Regions from separate parts of the Homo sapiens genome. Here all the other regions are linked to region 1. The links come from fine-mapping of genetic effects on gene expression. A gene starts in region 1. Each other region holds a variant in brackets. All regions are shown on one strand. Distances are between the middles of the regions.

Region 1 (7,926 bases):
CTATTCAGCCAAAAAGGAATGAAGTACTGATACATGGTTCAGCATAGGTGAACCTGGAAAACATGATGCTAAGTGAAAGAAGTCAGACACGAAAGGTCATATATTGTGTGATTTCATTTATATGAAATTATCCAGAATAGGTAAACCCACAGAGACAGAAAGCAGATCGGTATTTGCCAGGGGCTGGGGGGGAGGGGAGAATGGGAAATGACTGCTTAGTGGGTACAGGGTTTCCTTTTGGGGTGATGAAAATGTTTTAGAATAATAGAAGTGGTGGTTTCACAAAATGTACAAAATGTCACTTTAAAATTATTACATCCTGTTACAAGAATTTCACCTTAATAAAAAATGTCTGAGTGTGAACAGAGAAACAATCAAAGCTGAATCTGGGTTAAGGGACCAAAAACAGAGGCATGAACACCTGGAGGTCACATTGGAGATTGCAGATTCTGAGAGGTGGAAAAACACGTGTCTGAGGATAATGAAAAAATATAAAACAGCTCTCTGCCTGTTGAGCACAATAAACATTTGAAAGATGTGGACGGTTGGTAAAAAGTAGATAACACTGCTCGGGGGCCATCAGGTCACAATCTCTTCACAGAAGAGCATTGCACATTTTGACTCAACCTCAGAATCAGCCCTCATGTGTTTGCTTTACTTACATTTCCAACCACTGCTCTCTCCTGGACCTCAGAATACCTATATCTGCTTCCTGCAAACACACTCAAAGTTAGTTTCTATTTCTTCCTCCCTACAATCCCAGTATGACTGAAGTCCATTGGAATTTAGAACCTTGCTGCTTAGTGTGGTCCATGGACAGGCAGCATTGGTGTCACCTGGGAGCCTCTTAGAAATGCAGAATCTCAGTCCCTATTCCCCAATCAGCATTTTAATAAGATTCCCCCAAGTAATTTATATGCACATTTAAGTTTGACAAATTTCCAACTTTCCATCTATAAAAATCAAAATGAAGAAACAAACGAGATTTATTTTCTCTAGGAAGTCATGATGCTTGATTTTATTTACAATTATTGTTTTGTTCTGTTAGTTTTGCCACCCAGGGCTTGAGTTAAAGGAAATGGGATTATTTTTCAATATGGTTTGTCTTTTCCACTAAATTTTCTAAAAGGAGTCAGGATAGTGCCCAACCCACTTCAAAGAATGTAGGCTGGCATGAGTCATTGTTTTTCATGGTTGTTTCAAAGATTAATTTCATTTGCCCCACATTTTTGCAACAGTGGTCTTCTTTCCCTTCCTAAATCACTCCAGGCTCTTTCCTGCATCACGGCTTTTCACACATGATTCCCTCTGCCCTAAAATCTTCTTCATTTGACTTTTCCTGTTTAACTTTTCACACCCTTTAAATATCAGATGAGATGTTACTTTTCCAGGAAGTCCTTTCTTCATCACTCCGTCCAAAGCAGGTCCCCGTGTTTTTCTCTATGAAGGTGCCCTGCTTATTTTTTTTGCTGGCCTCACATTTTCTAATTATGTACACATTTGTGTGAATGTATGACTGTGTGTAAGCTAAGTAGCATAGTGAAGTGGCTATGAGCACAGACTCCGGAGCCAAGCTTCCTGATTTCCAATTCTAGCAGCCACTTCTCTCCTCCTGGGTCTCAGAACACCTGCATCTGCCTCCTGTAAACTCATTCAAATGTGTTTCTCTTTCTATACCCATTTCCCCCATAAATGTGGGGCAGTGAGCAAGTTACTTTAGTGTTCTGTGCCTTCTTTCCCCATCTGTGAAGTGGAGATTGGAGCACTGTATATTTCATAGGGTCATTATAAGAAGTATTCATGGAAATAGGGAGAAGAAGAGGAGTTTTAACACAAGGACATTCAGAATATTTTATTCTAGAGGTGGAAATAATTTTGCAGGGTGGTAAAAATGAAGCAAAAACTCAAGATTCTGCTCCTAGATCAGGAAGTGGCTCTTGAATGAAGGAAAGAATTCTCTCTCTTTCTGCATTTTATATATATTTCCCAAAGTTCTGTTCTCATTCCAGTTTTCTCCTCAGCTTAACATATCTCTATGCCATTGATTTTTAAGTCTCTAGCCTCAGCTCTACCCCTAGTCCTAAGTTCCCAGGATCCTCCACGTAACTTCCTCATGTATAGCACACTGACATCCTAAAATCAGTAGGTCCAAAATTGAACTCACCTTCCTCCTGTGGCTGCTCTCCACCTTCCAATTTTGTCACTTTCTTTGGCTATCCTGTCTGAAATTTCACTGCCGTCTTTACCATATTTCATCTCTCCCTTTCCTTCTTGATTTATTTCTTCCTACCCAATACACTATTTTACTTGTTTATCTTTTTTTACAGTTTGTCTCCTGCTAAAATGTTAACTCCATGAGGGCAGGAATTTTTGCTTGCTTTGTTCATGATGTATTCATGCAAACTAGAAGAGTGCCAAGCATTCAGTAGGTGCTCAATGAATATTTATTCCTTTCTCATTCCAATTACCAATTACTCTACTTAACTCCATATTGATGGGATCTCTTGCTTCAGTCTCTTCTTTCTCTTATGCTGCTGCCACACTTGTTGAACTGTTATTTTTTCTCATAACTATTACAAGAGCTTGTCGCATGCTGGCTAATGAAATTTGGGCAAATTATTTAAATTAAGTTCACCTCAGTTCTTCATTTTAAAATGGAGATATTAATAGTATAAATTCATAGAATTCTCATGAGACTCATAACGTGTGTACAGCACCTGGCACAATACTTGAAATACAATAAGTGCTCAGTGAATGCTTCCTACTTTTATCTGCTACCCTGGGCTAGCTCTGGACTAGATTTCCATTGGTCTCCTGGACTATCTCTGCCTGAATGCTACACTTTGTCTCCCGTGGACCACTTGTAGTTCCCCAAATGTGATATGAATCTTCATCTTCTCCATATAATGGACAGCAGGAAACAAGAAGCCAGCTGGATCAGTTCATTCTTTTCTCACTGCCATATATAATGCATTGCTGGACTAGCTAGCCCTAATTTGCACTAAAGGAGGGGAGAGATGGAAACCTTTTTTTTTGCAATGAGCAAAAGGTGAGAGGGTTATTTTTGGTGTGTTTGGTTGGGCCCAGAAAATTTGGCTCAACTGAATAATAGGTTTTTAATAATTTAGATGAGGATAGTGAGGTTCAGGAAGGATAAGTAACCTCCCTGAGGTTCACAGTACGATAGTAGATACATTGGTATGAGGGCCCATTTTCTTGGTCTTGGTACTCTTTATAACACAAGATGCTGGTCATAAACCACAAACAGTCTTGTCTTCAAAAGCTTATTTCCTCTGCCCCAGCAAATAACTTTCTTACATGCAGACACAATTGAAATTGTTCACCGACAACCATCTCAGGCTTATCGCATCCAAAGTTGAGAGGAGGTAGTAGTATATCAGGTAACACTGCCAGCGTCCCCTTTCCCGCCCCAATCCCTTGGCAGAGAGCCAGACAACTGTATACAGACGATTTAGGTTGAGCAAGCTGCACAAAACCAGGGAGTCACTCAGTGACTACACCGATCTGGATTGACATTTACCTGGGCCAAAGCAGAAGACAAACAGGAGCGATTGGAACAGCCACAACATGCTTTCCGCGGTGAAGACTGGTGCTTGAGACCTTGAGGCAGTCAATGTTTTTGCCCTTCTGTCATAAACTGAAAATACTTCTGAGACTTCCCCTTCCTCTTAGAGGCGTGGTGACAACTTCTTCCCCTGCACTAAAAATCCTAATTTGTAACTGTGTTAATTTTTTGTTTACTTTTTTCTGAGCTAAGTGCACAAATTTTTTTTTTTTTTGGAAAAGAAGATAAAGTCCTTTATTGCATCTTTCATAAACTTATATGTAAAAGTCTGTAAGGAATTTCCTAAAATCTACTAGAACAAATAAATGAGTTCAGCAAGGTGAAAAGATACAAAATCAAAATATAAAATTCAATTGCAATTGTATATACTAGCTATGAGTAATCCAAAAATAAAATTCAAAAAACAATTCCACTCTAATTACATTAGAAAAAAATATTTAAGTATAAAGCTAAGAAAAAGCCAAAAGAAAACTGATTTTTTAAAATTATACTTTAAGTTCTAGGGTACATGTGCACAATGTGCAGGTTTGTTACATATGTATACATATGCCATGTTGGTGTGCTGCACCTATTAACTTGTCATCTACATTAGATATTTCTCCTAATGCTATCCCTCCCCTTGCCCCCCACCCCGTGACATACCCCAGTGTATGATGTTCCCCTACCTGTGTCCATGTGTTCTCATTGTTCAGTTCCCACCTATGAGTGAGAACATGCGTTGTTTGGCTTTCTGTTCTTGTGTTAGTTTGCTGAGAATGATGGTTTCCAGCTTCATCCATGTCCCTGCAAAGGACATGAACTCATCCTTTTTTATGGCTGCATGGTATTCCATGGTATATATATGCCACATTTTCTTTATCCAGTGTATCATTGATGGGCATTTGGGTTGGTTCCAAGTCTTTGCTATTGTGAACAGTGCTGCAATAAACATAAGTGTGCATGTGTCTTTATAGCAGCATGATTTATAATCCTTTGGGTATATAACCAGTAATGGGATTGCTGGGTCAAATGGTATTTCTAGTTCTAGATCCTTGAGGAATCGCCACACTGTATTCCACAATGGTTGAACTAGTTTACACTCCCACCAACAGTGTGAAAACATTCCCATTTCTCTACATCCTCTCCAGCATCTGTTGTTTCCTGATTTTTTAATGATTGCCATTCTAACTGGCATGAGATGGTATCTCATTGTAGTTTTGATTTGCATTTCTCTAATGACCAGTGATGATGAGCTTTTTTCATATGTTTCTTGGCCGCATAAATGTCTTCTTTTGAGAAGTGTCTTCATATCCTTTGCCCACTTTTTGTTGGGGTTTTTTTTTTTTTCTTGTAAATTTGTTTGAGTTCTTTGTAGATTCTGGATATTAGCCTTTTGTCAAATGGATAGACTGCAAAAATTTTCTCCCATTCTGTAGGTTCCCTGTTCACTCTGATGATAGTTTCTTTTGCTGTGCAGAAGCTCTTTAGTTTAATTAGGTCCCATTTGTCAATTTTGGCTTTTGTTGCCATTGATTTTGATGTTTTAGTATTGAAGTCTTTGCCCATGCCTTTGTCCTGAATGGTATTGCCTAGGTTTTCTTCTGGGGTTTTTGTGGTTTTAGGTCTAACATTTAAGTCTTTAATCCATCTTGAGTTAATTTTTGTGTAAGGTATAAGGAAGGGAACCAGTTTCAGTTTTCTGCATAATTGCTAGCCAGTTTTCCCAACACCATTTATTAAATAGGGAATCCTTTCCCCATTGCTTGTTTTTGTTAGGTTTGTCAAAGATCAGATGGTTGTAGATGTGTGATGTTATTTCTGAGGCCTCTGTTCTGCTCCATTGGTCTATATATCTGTTTTGGTACCAGTACCATGCTGTTTTGGTTACTGCAGCCTTGTAGTATAGTTTGAAGTCAGTTAGCGTGCTGCCTCCAGCTTTGTTCTTTTGGCTTACAATTGTCTTGGCTATATGGGCTCGTTTTTGGTTCTGTATGAAATTTAAAGTAGTTTTTTCTAATTCTGTGAAGAAAGTCAATAGTAGTTTGATGGAAATAGCATTGAACCTATAAATTACTTTGGGCAATATGGCCATTTTCATGATATTGATTCTTCCTATCTATGAGCATGGAATGGTTTTCCATTTGTTTGTGTACTTTCTTATTTCCTTGAGCAGTGGTTTGTAGTTCTCCTTGAAGAGGTCCTTCACATCCCTTGTAAGTTGTATTCCTAGGTATTATATTCTCTTTGTAGCAATTGTGAATGGCAGTTCACTCACGACTTGGCTCTCTGTTTGTCTATTTTTGGTGTATAGGAATGCTTGTGATTTTTGCACATTGATTTTGTATCCTGAGACTGCTGAAGCTGCTTATCAGCTTAAGGAGATTTTGGGCTAAGACAATGGAGTTTTCTAAATATACAATCATGTCATCTGCAAACAGAGACTATTTGATTTCCTCTCTTCTTATCTGAATACCCTTTACTTCTTTCTCTTGCCTGATTGCCCTGGTCAGAACTTTCAATATTATGTTGAATAGGAGTGGTGAGAGAGGGCATCCTTGTGCTAGTTTTCAAAGGGAATGCTTCCAGATTTTGCCCATTCAGTATGATAATGGCTGTGGGTTTGTCATAAATAGCTCTCATTATTTTGAGATACGTTCCATCAGTACCTAGTTTATTAAGAGTTTTTAACATGAAGGGATGTTGAATTTTATCAAAGGCCTTTTCTACATCTATTGAGATAATCATGTGGTTTTTGTCATTGGTTCTGTTTATGTGATGAATTACATTTATTGATTTGCATATGTTGAACCAACCTTGCATACCAGGGATGAAGCCAACTTGATTGTGGTGGATAAGCTTTTTTTTTTTTTTTTTTTGAGGTGGAGTCTTGCTCTGTCGCCCAGGCCAGAGTGCAGTGGAACAATCTTGGCTCACTGCAAGTTCCGCCTCCTGGGTTCATGCCATTCTCCTGCCTCAGCCTCCTGAGTAGCTGGGACTGCAGGTGCCCACTACCACGCCCAGCTAATTTTTCTGTATTTTTAGTACAGACAGAGTTTCACTGTGTTAGCCAGGATGGTCTCGATCTCCTGACCTCATGATCCACCCACCTCAGCCTCCCAAAGTGCTGGGATTACAGGCACGAGCCACCATGCCCGGCTGGTGGATAAGCTTTTTGATATGCTGCTGGATTCAGTTTGCCTGTATTTTATTGAGGATTTTTACATCAATGTTCATCAGGGATATTGGCCTAAAATTTTCTTTTTTTGTTGTGTCTCTGCCAGGTTTTGGTATCAGGATGATGCTGGCCTCATAAAATGAGTTAGGGAGGAGTCCCTCTTTTTTTATTGTTTGGAATAGTTTCAGAAGGAATGGCACCAGCTCCTCTTTGTATCTCTGGTAGAATTCGGCTGTGAATCCATCTAGTCCTGGGCTTTTTTTGGTTGGTAGGTTATTAATTACTGCCTCAAATTCAGAACTTTTTATTGGTCTATTTAGGGATTTGATTTCCTTCTGGTTTAATCTTGGGAGGGTGTATGTGTCCAGGAATTTATCCATTTCTTCTAGATTTTCTAGTATTTGTGTAGAGGTGTTTGTAGTATTCTCTGACGGTAGATTGTATTTCTGTGGGATCAGTGGCAATGTCCCCTTTATCATTTTTTATTGTGTCTATTTGATTCTTCTCTTTTCTTCATTAGTCTGACTAGCTATCTATTTTGTTGATCTTTGCAAAAAACAGCTCTTGGATTCATTGATTTTTGAAGGGTATTTAGTGTCTCTATCTCCTTCAGTTCTGCTCTGATTTTAATTATTTCTTGTCTTCTGTTAGCTTTTGAATTTGTTTGCTCTTGCTTCTCTAGTTCTTTTAAGTGTGATGTCAGATGTGAATTTTAGATTTCTCTTGCTTTCCCTTGTGAGCATTTAGTGCTATGTTTCCCACTACATACTGCTTTGGCTGTGTCCCAGAGATTCTGGTACATTGTGTCTTTGTTCTCATTGGCCTTAAAGAACTTATTTATATCTGCCTTAATTTTTTTATTTACCCAGTAGTCATTCAGGGCAGATTGTTCAGTTTCCATGTAGTTTTGTGGTTTTGAGTGAGTTTCTTAATCCTGAGTTCTAATTTGATTGTACTGCGGTCTGAGAGACAGTTTGTTATGATTTCCATTCTTTTGCATTTGCTGAGGAGTGTTTTACTTCTAATTATGTGGTCAGTTTTAGAATAAATGTGATGTGGTGCTGAGAAGAATGTGTCTTCTGTCAATTTGGGGTGGAGAGTTCTGTAGATGTCTATTAGGTCCTCTTGTTCCAGAGCTGAGTTCAAGTCCTGGATATCCTTGTTAATTTTCTGTCTCATTGATCTG
Region 2 (7,926 bases), 24 kb before region 1:
TTAGGCTCTGTCTTCAGCTCTGTCATTAACTGGCTTTGCAGTGTCATTGTGTTGACACTGACTCAATGACTCCAAATGCCATATTCTTTACCACTAGGCGACAGTGCACATTTGAAGTCACATAGGATTGGAATACATGTATATTTTTCAGTCCATATGGAATTAAACCCCATATTTTGACTTACTTAATATCCTCAGAGTGTAACTGGACAGCTTTGCAGAGGTCTTTGTGGATATCTGGGCTCTGTAAGAGCCTGTGTCTTCCATCTTCAGGTTGCTGAGTTGCAGGGAGTAGGACTGGGTGAAGTTCAGTCGCTTTCCCTGTTTCGGATTAGTCACGTGGATTTCTGGACTTTTGGTTTCATGGGGTACTATGAAGGCAAGAGATGTTTCATTGAAAAGCCAAGTGATGAAGTTGACCTTCTCTCCTGCAGGAAACTCCAGGGGAAGAGTTACTGACTCCCCCAGAATCCCGTTCACCATCAATGGGGTTAAGCTGCTTTGTGAAACTACATTCCCTGTAAACACAGAAGGAAAGGTTTTAAAAATGTTCCTGACCATCTCCCTGCCAAGTCCTGCACCCTTTCACCTAACGCTGCCAGTCTGTTAGAGCTCTCTGATACCAAAACTCAGAGATATGACAGAGTAGGAAAGGGTAGGAGATGTTTCTAAATGAATAATCACAGTCCCAGAGCTTCACCTCCAGCAAAATGTCAGCCACTCTTGGTTAGTAGGCAGCTAGTCTAGATGAAACCGGCCCAGTCCACGCTGGGTCCTACACTGGCTGGTCACTCCTAGGTCATAACTATACTTTGTGATCCTAGCCTCTGAAGTCCTTGGACATTAGGTTGAGGGGGACAGGAAACTATAGACTCCAAAAACTGCAAGTCTTTGCTAATAAAGCATAATTAAAGCCTGATATTTACTGATTACTTACTGTGTGTCCAACATAGTAGGCTTGTGCAACTTAGAAGGCTGGTAACAGGGACTAATATCAGGGATTTATAGGATAGTCAGTTCTTCTTATATATTATTTCATTGACGCTGACTACAGTCTGTGAGGCAGGCAGGATGGATATTATTACTTCCATTTATAGATAAAGGAACTGAGCTACAGAAAAGTTAACTAATTTTCCCAGGGTTGCACAGCTAAAGAATAGCAGAGTCAGGATTCAAACCCAGGTCTTCTGACTCCAGTGACTTTGTGCTGTCTTCATGATACCAGAAGATTTTTTTTTAATTCTCTCAGAAAGATTATAGTTTAGTTATTGAGGAGACAAAATGGATACATATAGAAATAATAAATATAATTTCAAAGTAACACATGATGGCCACATTCTTGTGAACTTATTCAGAACTATCAATGTTTAAGCAAAAACGGTGAAATGGTCACAATGATTCTTAAAGAAGATGCTTCCTTAGCATCCTTTCCCAAATTCTTAGCAATTATTACACTATTTTGTAGTTTTGTTCACCTGTTTGTCTAACTGACCACGCCTTAATTAGCCTTGCATGTCAGTACTCAGCACCATGTCTGACACATAGTAGAGTCTGTGGAAATGTTCTAGTGGGTCAATGAATGAATAACTATAACAATTACCTCAACCTTCTCAGGATCTCTTGCTTCTTTTTCTTAAAAATTTCAACTTTTATTTTAGATATGGGGGTACATGTGCAGATTTGTTACATGGGTATATCACACCCAGATAGTGGACATAATAACTAATAGGTAGTTATTCAACCCATTACCTGTTCCCTTCCTTCCCCCTCTAGTAGTCCACAGCGTCTATTAATCCCATATTTATGTCCATGTGTGCTCAGTGTTTAGCTCCCACTTATAAGTGAGAGCATGTAGTATTTGGTTTTCTGTTCCTGTGTTGGTGTGCTAGGATTATGGCCTCCAGCTCCACCCGTGTTACTGCAAAAGACATGATTTAATTCTTTTTTATGGCTGGTTAGTATTCCATGGTGTATATATACCAAATTTTCTTTATCCAATCCATCATTGATTGGAACCTAGGTTGATTCTGTGTCTTTGCTATTATGAATAGCATAGTATGAACATACAAGTGCATGTGTCTTTTTGGTATAATGATCTATTTTCCTTTGGCTATATACCCAGTAATGGGATTGCTGGGTTGAATGGTAGCTCAGTTTTAAGTTTTTTGAAAAATCTCCAAACTGCTTTCCACAGTGAAAATTTATATTTCCCAATAACAGTGTATAACTGTTTCCTTTTCTCTGCAACCTCACCAAGTGGGACCTAGCACCTGTTTTTTTTTTATTTTTTGACTTTTAATAATAGACATTCTGAAAGAATGAAGGGTCCAGTTTCAATCTTCTGCATATGGCTATACAAAAATACAAAAAAGTGTATTAGTGTATTCTGAATTTTCTGTTCTCTTCCAGCTGTCATTCTGACAGAATGGCTATTATTAAAAAGTCAAAAAAGTGTTATTTGTCCATTTTCACACTGCTGATAAAGACATACTCAAGACTAGTAATTTATAAAGGAAAGATGTTTAATTGACTCACAGTTCCCCATGGCTGGGGAGGCCATGGCACTCACAAGCATGGTGGAAGGTGAAGGAGGAGCAAAGTCACGTCTTACATGGTGGCAGGCAAAGAGAACATGTGCAGGGGAACTCCCCTTTATAAAACCATCAGAACTCATGAGACTTATTCACTATCATGAGAATAGCACAGGAAAGACCTACCCCCAGATTCAATTACCTCCTACCAGGTCCCTCCCATGACATGTGGGAATAATGGGAGCTCTACAGTTCAAGATGAGATTTGGGTGGGGACACAATCAAACCATATCAAAAACCAAACCAGCATCTATTGTGTTCTTTTTTTTGACTTTTTAATAATAGCCATTCTGACTGGTGTGAGATGGTATTTCATTGTGGTTTTGATTTGGATTTCTCTGATGATTACTGATGCTGAGCATTTTTTCATGTTTGCTGAGTGCTTGTATATCTTCATTTAAGAAGTGCCTGTTCATGTCCTTTGCCCATTTTTTAATGGGGTTATTCGTCTTTTTGCTTATTGGTTTAAGCTCCTTATAGATTCTGGATATTAGACCTTATGTTGGGTACATAGTTTGCAAATATTTTCTCTCATTCTGTAAGATGTCTGTTTACGGTAATGATAGTTTCTTTTGCTGTGCAGAAGCTCTATAGTTTACTTAGGTT[C/T]CACTTGTCAATTTTCGTTTTTGTTGCAATTGCTTTTGGGGACCTAGCCAAAAATTCTTTGCCAAGGCCAGTGTCAAGAAGGGTATTTCCTATTTTTTTCTAGGATTTTTATAGCTTGAGGTTTTACATTTAAATATTTGATCCATCTTGAGTTAATTTTCGTATATGGTTAAAGGTAAGGGTCCAGTTTCAATCTTCTGCATATGGCTAGCCAGTTATCCAGCACCATTTATTGAACAGGGAGTCCTTTCCCCATTGCTCGCTTTTGTTGGCCTTGTCAAAAATCAGATGGTTGTAAGGGTGTGGCTTTATTTCTGAGTTTTTTGTTCTCTTCCAGTTGTCTATGTGTCTGTTTGTGTAACGGTACCATGCTGTTTTGGTTACTATAGTCTTATGGTATGGTTCAAAGTCAGATAGTGTGATGTCTCTGGATTTTTTGTTTTTGCTTAGAATTGCTTTGACTATTTGGGCTCTTTTTTTGGTTCCATATGAATTTTAGAATGGTTTTTCTAATTCTGTGAAGAATGACATTGGTAGTTTGATAGGAATAGCACTGAATCTAGAAATTGCTTTGTGTGGTATGGCCATTTTAACGATGTTGATTCTTCCAATCCATGAGCATGGAAAGTTGTCATTTCTGAGGGTTTCTTATTTCTTATAGGAGGAGCTGAATAGGGAAGGAAATGTCTCTTGGAGTCCTAGTGCTCAGCTCCTGGGTGAGCTTGCACTTCCTCTCTCTTTCATGAATTGTCATATGGGTTCCAGGCACATGAACATTGCTGTCATCAACATCTTTCCCATCAGCATTTTAACACACTGTTATTTGTCATCTTTATTCCTCTTTCCTCTGAATCACATGGGTGAATACCACAAGCAACATTTTGAGCAGAATGTCCAGATACCAGAGAATACAAATATATGATTCTATTTATTTAAAGTTGATAAACAGACAAATCTATGCTGTCAGAAGTCAAGAGAGTGGTTACCTTTGAGGAGGGAGAGGTGGTGAATAGGAGGGAGTATAAAGGAAGGATCCTGGAATACTGATAATGTCCTATCTCTAGATCTGTATTTGGCTACACAGATTTGTTCATTTTATGATAATTCATTGAGCTGACATTTAAGATTCGTATAGTTTTTCTCTTTGTATTTCAGTTTAAAAAGTTAAAACAGTAACAAAAGCAGAGCAAAACAAAATCATGTCTATGGTCTATAAGGACCAAAATGATCTGGCCATTTCTCTTTCTTTGACCTAATTCCTATATTCTCCCCCTTGTTCACTTTGCTCCAGCCCCCTTGGCTATTCCTTGAGCAGGCCAGGGCTTTTGCATTTGCAATCCTTTCTGTCTGGAATGTACTTTCTCCAAGTATCCATGCAGCTCACTCTTTTGCCTCCATAAAGTCATTAATGCAAACATTCCTGCTCAGAGAATTTAAAGAAGTGTGACCACTCTTTTTGCACCATCAGCCCCCATCCACCCTTGCACATCCAGCTGCCTTTGGATTTACCATCTAGTACTTACCATCTAGTATACTTTATAATTTAAATATTTGTTTTTGTTTATTTTCTCACCTCTCCACTAGAATGTAATCTCCATGGAGACAAAGATTTTTGTCTGTTTTGTCTACTATTGTGAACATTCTTGAACAGCACCTGGCACATAGTAAGCATCCCATGAATATTTACTGAGTGAATGGACATATCTCCATCCCTTCTCTTGGAGGTTTTCTGTCTAGAATGTTAAAGCTCAGTTCCTTTTGGTAGGGAGTCTGGGCTTACTCAGTGGCCTAAGGACTCACCAGGAGCTGTTCTTCCCTTGCCTGGAACGCTTGTTTAAGTTCCATTGATTTTATAGATTGAAATAATTAGTTTATGTAACAAGATTTTATCTATGGCTATTTATGCTGCTTACAAGAAGAAAGTCAAGGCTAAGGCAGAGTGGTAGCCTGTCTAGGCATTAAAGGAGTGCCCCAAAACAGAGCCAATCTGCAAAGACAAGCACAGAAATTTATTTATTTGTTTGTTTGTTTATTCATTCTGGTGTTCAAATATTCTAATATTTGCTAACTTCCATGCTAATTCAATTAGTAAAACCTTAGGAACCATGGCATATTTATTAGGTCTGTTTTATGTACCAGTTTCTAGACTGGAAACTGGGAATATAAGATACTGTCAGTCCTCTGGGTCCATCATCTGATAGAGGAGCCTGACAGGTAAATGAGTAGTTAGTTCTGATGTGGTGGGTTGGGCATTGAGCTAGTGTAAGGCTTGCCTCTGCATTGCCCTCGTATCACTATTGCAGTTATACATGCAATTGCAAGCAGTTCTTTCTCTTTGTTATAATTACAAGATTATTTTCTTTTCTTTTCCATAATCTTGAGGTCAGGGATTCTGATTATTATTTCTATATTCCTAGAACTTAGCACACAATTTCTAGCTCAATAAATGTTGAATTGTTAGAGATATGTGCTCCATGGGAGCAAAAATTTAGAGAATCATGAACTGGGAAGAGTTGGGAGTTGTCAGGGAACAGTTCACAGGAGATGACACTGTAGCAAAGTCTTGAATAAAAGCTATGAGTTCTCCATTACTTAATTATTTGTAATTCTTCCAATAATGCCTTGCTTTTTTTTTTTTTTTGCACTGCTTTTCCCTCTGCTTAAAATGCCTTTCTTCATCTTTCCTACATGGTAAGCTCCTATTTATCCTTCAAGGATGAGCTAAAATATCTGTTTGCCTCTTATATTTATGGGGGTTTTGCATTGGTACATGGGGAAGGGGAGAAAGGAGTTTGTGGTGAAGCAAAGGGAGAAGGAGCACAGGATGGATGAGATGGTAGGAATAGTTCCCCACAGACCCAAAACCAAACCAAAGCAAAACTAGATTTGAGACAATATGCTTAGGGACAGTGAAGGTCAGATGCTACTGAAAATGTTTAAAAGACCCTGCATGAGACTTTGGACAGGAGCAGAGCTGCTTCAGGGCCAAGGTGTTGTGGTGTGGCCCAGAGGGCACATGGAGGTCCTTTTCTCTGCTCTGCCAGGAATCAACACTGATGCTTTGGGAGCATCCGGGACCAGCACCCTTGGCATGGACATTGATGTTCTTGGAATAAGCAGGGCATCTAAATGGCTCTGCTGGCATCCTGTGTGGGGGACTAGAACCAGAAAAGGAGATTAAGAATGGGAAAGATGCCTCATGTTGGCTACAACTCGTAGGCTGCTTTGGGGACTCATGGGAAGCTTTCCTTTGAGACTCTCATAAGTCACTGGGGAACTCCTTGCAACATGAAGGTGATGCTGAGGTCTTGCCCATCCACTGGTGAGGATGTCAAGACAGCAGACATTTGGGGTACATTTGTTTACAAGTTTCATCTACTGTATGATGTGTTTTGGGGAACTCAAATAATATCTTAGTCAGCATTGTATTTCCCCATAACCTGGTCCAGGGAACTCAGTGAATGTTAAGTAGATTGGAATTAGAATAGAGAAGTTTTTAAGGGTTACCTGATTAGTGGAGGGTTAGTTTGGAAGGTATTAAAAAACATGAAGTATTTTTGAAAATTGGCAAAGTATAAAGAGAGCAGTGTCTTAGGAAAGAGAGGAGAGAGGTAGAACTAAGCAGATTCTGAAAAAGAGAGAAAAGTCAAGGAACTTTGGGTTTCTAACCTGAGGGACTAGCTTAGGCCCATCTATAGCTAACAGGAATATAGCAAGCTGTGTTAGCTCCACAGGAGGCAAATGCAGTATGAAAGAGAGTAGGGGCTGATTTCTCAAGAGAATTTAAAGAGAAGGGAGGAGAAACATAGTCAGGATATTGAGAAGGTAGGACAAATGGAAGTTACTCTTTAGGTAACAGAGTCCTGAGCAAATTTGGAGCAAAGGGAAGCAGCTGGGAGAAAAAGAAAAAACTTAAGATATGGTGAAAGGGAGTATTCAAAACGGTGTCATTTCTGAGGAGGAAGCCAGGGTGGGCTTAGGAGCATAAGTGAAGAGGTTAGTCTTGGGTAGACGTGGTTCTCCTTTTCTTTTGAGACTGAAAAGAATAAGGTTAAAGATCTCAAAAGATTTAGAGGGTAAAGGGGAAGAAGTTGGAATATTTCGCTTATGTTTTTCTCAAAGTTGTTCTAAGAGAAGTAGATCTCATAGAATCTAGAGGAAGACGGATGAGACATGTAAAAGCTGCTATGAGGAATTTGTTAGGAAACTGACAAGTCATCAATAAATGAGTGTGGAAGCAGTGAGGAGGAATTGGCCAAGCTTGGTTGACACGCACCATTCATGGAGTCCATCCAGTTTTGCATTGGCTGGTGCGAAAGTGATTGCGGATTTTGCCATTACCTTCAATGGGAAAATCCGCAATCACTTTTGCACCACACTAATAACTTTCTCCAATGATTATAGCACTTGTAGCCCAGGAACAGGGAAAGAAGGTGCTGGGGATCACCTAATATTAGCAATAGGCATAGTATAGGTAGGTGTGGCATCAAAGGGGAGAGGGATTTCAGGGGAATGGTGACTACTTTGTTGAAATTGCTGGCCTAAAGTCTGAGGGTCAGTGACATTAGTCAAAATGGCACAATAAATAACTGCAAGGGTCCATCCCTCCACAAAAAACATGCACACTCATGCGAACACACACAGAGTGAGCAAACATTGTCAGAATCAACTTTGTCAGAACTGTAGAAACTAGTCAAAGGTTTATAGCAACCAAACAAATGATGGGTCA
Region 3 (7,926 bases), 65 kb before region 1:
TTTTAAGAGGCTAGATATTCAAATAAGAAGTTAAATTTAATACCTGGAAAATTATCTAGAATATATTAAAATGATGCACACTTAAACATGGATGTAAATCACTACCAAAGCTGTTGCCCTATTTTAAAAAATTATTTAGTTAGTTTTAAATTTACATACAGTAAAACTTATTCTTTGTGGTATATAGTTTCATGGATTTTTGCAAATGCATATAGTCCTGTGACCACCCTCACAATCAAGATGCAGAACAGTTTCATCACCCTCAAAAATTCCCTTGTGCTACCAATTTGTAGTCATCCTCTCTCCCCACCTGCAACTCTGGCAACCACTGATGACTTCTCCGTCATTATAGTTTTGCCTTTTCAATGACATTATACAATATATACAGTTTGAAGAGAGATTTTCAAACTTAAAATTTATTCATTTTAATAGTTGAATTATGAAAATAATGGTTATTTTGGGGTTGGAGGGATTTCCCTGCTGGTAACTAGTCAGATGAAGAAGAGTGAGGTAGACGGAGGCAGTATAAGACTAGCCTGAATTCAGTCACACTTGTAGAATCACAGGTGGTTAGACTTGGAAGGGTTTTTGGAGTCATTTAGCTAACATCCCAATATGAAGAAACTGAGGTCCAGAGGGAAGAATGAGTCTCAAACTTGCGCAACTGTGTGGAGCTGGCCTAGCCCTCAATTTCCCAATAGTCAACTTCAGTATGCTTTCAACTACTATACGCCCTGATTCGTACTATCAGTTTTGCCTGACTCTGAGTTCTAGCACAAATTCTTCCCCTTTGAAATTCCTCTGCCACATCCCTGATTGCTGATGATCAAAACAATACTTGATATTTATCACTAGCACTGGAAAAAAGGACAATTTCTGAACTATCATCTCATTAAGTTATGATTCCTGACTCTTTGCATCATGAAACCATAACTCATTCACGACTCTTAACTCATCATTACTGGATGGGTGTTCATTCTGTTATAGGCAAAATGCCCAAGAGAAAATATACAATCCAGAATTAAGTCATTTTGAAAGGCAAGAACTGGAAAGACCATTAGAAATAACTTGAGGTGGTTTTTAGGCATCCTTAGGCATCTCCAAAGTTCCCACTGGGAGCACCTCAGGAGAGGGGTAAGGAAAAGGCTCAGTGGTAGCTGTGCCACCTCCTCTGATAAAACCATTTGTGATCACTTTCATTCTTCCTGAAAGGCTTCCTGTAACATTTCTTACAGCGCTGATATGCTTGTGGTGAATTCTTTCAGCTTCTGTATGTCTACAAAAGTCTTTATTTTACCTTTTTTTTTAAGGTTATTTTCACTGAGTATAGGATTTTATGTTGACAGGTGTGTGTGTGTGTGTGTGTGTTTCCCTCCTTGCTTTTAAGATGTTGCTCCAGTGTCTTCTGGCTTGCATTGAGAAGTCTCTTTTTTTTTTTTTTTCCCCCAAGACTGAGTTTCGCTCTTGTCGCCCAGGCTGGAGTGCAATGGCCTGATCTCAGCTCACTGCAACCTCCCCCTCCCAGGCTCAAGTGATTCTCCAGCCTAATCCTCCCTAGTAGCTGACATTACAAGTGCCCCCCACCATGCCCGGCTAATTTTTGTATTTTTAGTAGAGATGGAGTTTCGCCATGTTGGCCAGGCTGGCCTTGAACTCCTGACCTCAGGTGATCCACCCACCTTGGCCTTCCAAAGTGCTGGGATTACAGGCGTGAGCCACCGCGCCCAGCCAAGAAGTCTGCTTTCATTTTTACCTTTCTTCCTTTGTACATATTGTGTCTTTTTTCTCTGTCTGCTTTTAAATTTTTGTTTTTATTAATGGTTTTAAGTAATTTGATTATGATGTTCCTTGGCATACTTCTCTTAAATTTCTTATGATTGGGATTTAGTGAGCTTCTTGGTTATAAGAATTTATAGTTTCACCAAATTTGGAATATTCGGTGACTATTTCAATTTTTTCCTCCCTTCCTTCTACTTAAAAAATTAAAAGATATTTTAAATTGAAGCAGCCATGAAAGTACATGTCAGGCCTTTTATTTTGGGCAGTTGATTGGTGACTCCAGCAGCTGTTCTCTGACTCTACCTTGTATTTCCACTGAAGCCAGACTTTTAATGGGCTGCTCCTAACCAATGATTAAATGTGGTACAAATGTGAATGCAGACCTTTTTCTGCAAGATGCAGACTCTTCTGATGGGTGACTTTGACTTGAGGACTCCCCATCAGCCTGGCTGACACTTTTATTTTTTTGAGTCAGAGTCTCACTCTGTCACCCATGCTGGAGTGCAGTGGCATGATCAGGACTCACTGCAACCTTGACGTTCCAGGCTGAAGCGATCCTCCCACCTCAGCACTGCCAGCCCCCACTCACCCTGCTGCACCGCCCCTTGAGTAGCTGGCACTATAGGCATGTGCCACCATGCCCTGCTATTTTTTTTGAATTTTAGTAGAGATGAGGTCTCACTGTGTAACCCAGGCTGGTCTGGAACTCCTGAGCTCAAGTGATCCTTCTGTCTTGGCCTCCCAAAGTGCTGTGATTACTTACAGGCGTGAGCCACTGCACCTGGCCTGAAACTATCTTAGAACAGTGCAGAAGTCTGAGACTATTCTTACTTAATCCTTCTTCCTTTCCTCTCTTTTTCCCAGGGTTCGCATCTACATGGTCTAAGGAGTTTCCCTATCATCTCCATCTCTATCTTCTTTTTCCTTCACAGCCATCTCCCCCAATAAATCTTTGGCATCTGCTTCCTGGAGGATCTGAGCTAACACGTTTATTATTACCATTATTTTATTTTTATTTCCCATCAGTATAAGATTTCACTTAAATAAAAGGTGGCTCACACCTGTAATCCAGCACTTTGGGAGGCCGAGGCGGGTGGATCACCAGAGGTCAGGAGTTTGAGACCAGCCTGGCCAACATGGTGAAACTCCATCTCTACAAAAAAATACAAAAATTAGCCAGGTGTGGTGGCACGCGCCTGTAATCTCAGCTACTCGGGAGGCTGAGGCAGGAGAATTGCTGGAACCCAGGAGGTAGAGGTTGTGATGAGCTGAGATCACACCATTGCACTCCAGCCTGGGCTGATAACAGCAAGACTCTGTCTCAAAATAATAATAATAATAAATAAAATAAAATAAAAAGAAAAGATTCCATATCTAAAAGTGTTTGAGAACTGGTGATCTATTTTTTACCATGTTATAGTTGAGGGACTGAAGCTTGGAGATCTCTTTTGGATACTAAGTTTCCAAACTGAAATCAACCTAAATTATGACAATAGTCAAGTCATAAAGGCTTGTTCTTTTTTTCTGGGGTCTTGAGGCCCTGGACCAAAATTCGGCACCAATGTCCTAATCATGACATTACTACTAACTTCTTTATAGTACATGACAAGCTACTTACCTTCTCTAATCTTATTAAAGGGCTTGGGTTAGCTTATCTATACAGACTTTTTAACTCTAAAATGTAACTTTATAGGTGAGAAAACTTAAATAATTTACCTGACCAACTATCCAAAAACTTGTTAGAGAAAGACTGTATGGATTGGATTTTTTTCTCTAATAGCCAATACAATGCTCAAGACTTTTTCTTGTATTGAACTGTCTTTGGGAAAATATCCTGATAAACCACTCATGGCAAAAGATGTGGCCATGGACTTCAGGAACCAATAGAGTTTTTAAAAAATGGCTGAATTGTTCTGCATAAGCAGAGGAAGGAAGGAATTTGGTTTTGATCCTAGGAGGAAACAGGAAAGGGAAGGAGGAAGGAGCAAAGCCTTAAGAGGGTATAAAACCAGAGAGGTACATGGAGTGAAAATCCCTGGGGATAGAATGGAAAAAGGGGCTTTTAAGGTTAGAGATACCCAACGTTTAATTGGAAACTTTTTGCTGTATTATTGAGGTTTCTGGTGTTTGAAAGTAACATAAACCCAGTTCCAAGAAGCTTATACAAAAAAGGGATCTTAGTGGCTCACAACATTTGGAAAGATTCCAGGATTGTTTGCTGCATCCAAGGAAGAATTATAGAAACTAAAGCGGCAGACACCGTACAGAAACTTGAATTAACGCTGCCAAATCTCTTTCTCTCCCTCACTCCATCCTTTCCTTTCCTATCTTTCTCATCTCTGCTTAACTCTGTTTCCCTTTCCATGTTGACCTCACATTTTCCTATGACAGAAAGGACTTTGCCATGTGAAAGAGACAGAAAGGAGACATGGTTGCAGCCAGACTCAGCTCAGCAACCATAGAGAGCTTTTTTCTCTAAGTATCCATATAACA[A/G]TTCCAAGGATGTGTTATAATTGTCCCGGCTTGGATTACATGTCCATCCCTTGTCAATGCCAGGGAAATAGAGCACCATGATTATCCCACACAGGTCATGTACCTCTGTTTTTGCCTGGGGCTAAGGGTCTTTAATGAGAAGAAAGGAGGTGGAAATTCTTGATGGGAAGATAAAATGATAGTTGCCACTTTGTGTTGCTTCAGTGTAAACCAATGCCTCTTTCAAAAACATTCAGTATAACCAGAATGTTCCATCCATGCAGCAGCCTTGTGTACATCGGGCTGTTTAGGTGAAAATTATGGCAAGGATGCTGGGCCTTGCCTAGGTTTAAGGTGGTAACAAATAAGGAAACACCCACAAGGGGTCAAATGACCTGTAATCTGAACTAATTCAACTGAATCAGGAATTTGGAGCCAGAGGTGACCATGGGAGCCATGTCAGGAAAGGATGTGGAATAGAGGCTTAAGTGCAGCTTATATGCCTTTGTGACCAGGAATGGAGCAGATGTACAATTGCTGGCTAGTTTTCCCATGGGGTATATTTTAGGTTCTTCAAAGATTCCTTTGCTGGGAACTTTTAACTGTAATTCCTGTGAGGTAGGTGGTGCTTCTTATGTGACTGGCTGGTTTTCACTTCAACTTCCGGGACTGAGCTTCCCAGAGTTGGTTATGGTTATCACTCTATAATGAGCTTTCAAACAGACTCCTGGCCAACTCTGACTTGGAAAGTCTATGTGTGGTCTTGGGAAACACTTCTGCATTGTTTTCCTACCATCTGTAGATGGTCAGTCCTCATTCTTTCTCTGCTGTGTGGCCTCAGGCACATCTATCAACAGCCTGTCTTCACATTCCTTATATATGCCAAACTCCAGAGGACAAATGTCACTCTGAGTGATCTTCCACTTATGGTCCTGTTGAAGCTCATTCAGCTGGCTTGAAGTGAAGGGAAAGTCTCCCTTCCCCATGGAAGGGCGCCCCCCCTTCCCCATAGTAGCACAGCATTCCAATGACTCTTTATGGAGAAATCCTCTCCCCTCCTTCTCTTCAACTTCGACTCCTGATATGGGTGATGTGCCAAGAGCCACAAAGCCAGCTTTTGGTCATCTCCTTTGTCAATCCCTGAAAAAGTGGGCAAGCTTTGTAATGTGGGGAGAGCTTAGCATCTATTGTTTTGTTTTGTTTTGAAAGCAACCACACCAAGGCTAACTGATTTTTGGAGCCTGGGCTCAAACTAAACAAGAAAGAATCTCATTTTAAATCCTTTTACACATGCATTATCTCACGTAATCGTTTAGGTATATTGGTCCCATTTTACACATGGGAAAACAGGCTTAGAGAGGTCAAGTGATTTGTTCAAGGTCTCATGGTAAGTGGCAGAAAAATCTAAACCCAGATTTTTTCTGACTCCAAAGTTAGTGCTCGTTCCACTTTGAAACTGTTAATTGATTACCAGAGTCCTGAGTCTTTTGGTTAATGCTCTGAGTTGGCATGGGGAGTCTTGTTCAAGCACTGGTACCTCTGACTCACGACTGTGTTCTTAGTCCATTCACCTCTGCACCTAAATTTTCCTTTATGTAAGTGTGTCACATAAGAATAATAATAATACTTTTTTTCCCTGCTTCCCAACAGAACTGTGTTGATAATGAGGTTTGAAGGTGGGTGGGTAGGAAAAATTTGTTAGAACTAAAAATGTTTAAACACCCACTACTATATGCCAGGCAGGCTCTGTGATAGGCTTTTTACAGACACTATTTAATTTAATCAAAGTTGACTAAAAAATATTTAGCAACTGGTCCAGCGCAGTTGCTGGCCAATCACAATGATGCTGGCTACTGACTGTCAAACTGTGCCAGGGAGACTGCTGGAAGAGGGGGTGCAAAGCACACAGGGCCAGCCAGCCAGCCAGCAAGGAGTGGCCAGCGTTACTCTCAGAGCGCCCCACGACAAAGTTCCTGCTCTTTTTAGTTATTTGAACACTTCAGAAGAAAGCAGCCACACCAAGGATAGCTATTATTATTCTCAGAGGTAGTTACTCAGAAGTTATTTGGATAAGGGTAAACAAGGCTAAGAAGTTTCATTTTTAGGGTTCCGCTTTCAAAGGAACACCGTTTTGCTCCTTTCTCTTATTTGTCTCTTTCTCATGCTGCTGGTGGACCAATGTCAAAATCTTGTGCTCAAAACCTTACTTCCTGTCCTTGTAGTAGCAATTCCCAATGGAGAAACATTTAAAGCACTGAAAGCAACACTCAAAAGAAGGAAAGAAAGGATAGAAAGGGAGGCGTGGGGGAAGATCATGAGGAAGGAAGGAAAAAAGAAGGAAAGAGAAATAAAATCAAAGAAGGAAGAAACAGTTCAGACCAGTTTGCAGATTTAGAAGTCATTTCTGGCTCCCTAACAGTTTTCATCCTCAGAGTGCTTTCAGGCCACCAACATGTTCACGCAATACTGGGCCGTGATCATCATGACCCAGGAGGGGAGGTAAGAGTGAAAGGTGGAGTCGACATTTACTGTGGAAAAACCAAGGACAAACAGGAAGAATTAAAACAGGAAATGACTCATGAACAATGGAAGGGGTGCTCCCCTCACTTTTATTATCCCCCTCAGAGAGAAAGAGTTTCCACTAGCTTTGTTTTTGGGAGTTTTTCTTCAACAACAACTCTAACTCTAACCCTCCTAACCCCCTTCTTTGAGGGAGACTCAGTTTTTCCAAAGTTGCAACACACTTCTCTACCCTCTTCTTTCACCCCAGCTTCTCATGAGGCATCTTAACACTGAATATTGTGTTCAATATATGCTTTTGAAGAAAACAGAGGAAAACGCAAAGATTAGTAAATGGATTATTTGAAAAAAACCATGGCAGCTGTTTCAAATTTTAGGGATGTTGGTAAAACTCATCTGAGAAGTAGAAGGCTATTGGGTTTAGACAAACTCCTTAACGGGCCACTTTGTTCAGATCTAGGCCCCATAGCATGTTCTGAAAAGAGATATACTGTGAGTAAAAATAGTTTAAATTGGTCTGTGTACTGGAGTCTGGAGTGACAGGTGTGTTTCAGTTTTTTCCTGGAAGAGTGGGGGAGTTTTGTGCTGGTAAACGTTTAACAATCACCTCTCCAATAACAACAACAACCAAACAATACAAAGTACTCTAAAACTCTGATTTGTAGCACTTGTCCATTTCTGTGGTAGCATTTCCATCAAGTCACTGAGTTAGGAAAAGATGTGCACCATTATATAGTGTTTCCTCTATGTGTGTGCAGTAGATGTAAATCCTCTCAAGAGCATAGAATAGTAAAGGATAGTAAAATAATTAAGAAGTGATGCATTTGAGTACTTACTACCCTTTTAAAAATATATAATTTATTTAAATATCAGCATTTAGTTACTGACGGGATGCTTAACAGCTAACTTGCAGAAATCCTGAAATTTTAGCTATTGACTCATGTGACTAGATTTGGGGGTCTGGAACCTGGAGAAAAGGAGAGTGAGACCCAGTAGGCTCCCGGGAAGGGTACATGCTGGGGCCTAAGGAAAATAGTACCCAAAGAGAAAGTTCCTGTGCAGGGATGACCAAAGGAATTTGAGGACAGTGATTTAAATAACTTTTATTTATTTATTTGTTTGTTTATTTTTGAGATGGAATCTCACTCTGTTACC

What was found. PIP is the estimated chance that this variant, and not a neighbour inherited with it, causes the effect. A credible set is the group of variants that fine-mapping cannot tell apart.
Region 2: its variant is the best candidate, but not a certain one, in a credible set for the expression of SLAMF6 in lymphoblastoid cells (GTEx, PIP 0.61).
Region 3: its variant is the best candidate, but not a certain one, in a credible set for the expression of SLAMF6 in whole blood (INTERVAL, PIP 0.83).

Annotation. Positions count from the first base shown.
Region 1 is chr1:160,519,603-160,527,528 of GRCh38, forward strand. It overlaps SLAMF6 (SLAM family member 6), which reads right to left and starts at 3,653. Exons shown (of 8, transcript NM_001184714.2): 1 at 3,542-3,653. The coding sequence starts at 3,590. RefSeq lists an enhancer at 3,438-3,487.
Region 2 is chr1:160,495,876-160,503,801 of GRCh38, forward strand. SLAMF6 (SLAM family member 6) reads right to left here. Exons shown (of 8, transcript NM_001184714.2): 2 at 186-518. Among named protein-coding and RNA genes, the nearest start is that of SLAMF6, 23 kb to the right of the region's middle. The variant C/T (reference allele first, on the strand shown) is at 3,198.
Region 3 is chr1:160,454,126-160,462,051 of GRCh38, forward strand. No RefSeq gene overlaps it. Among named protein-coding and RNA genes, the nearest start is that of VANGL2, 58 kb to the left of the region's middle. The variant A/G (reference allele first, on the strand shown) is at 4,273.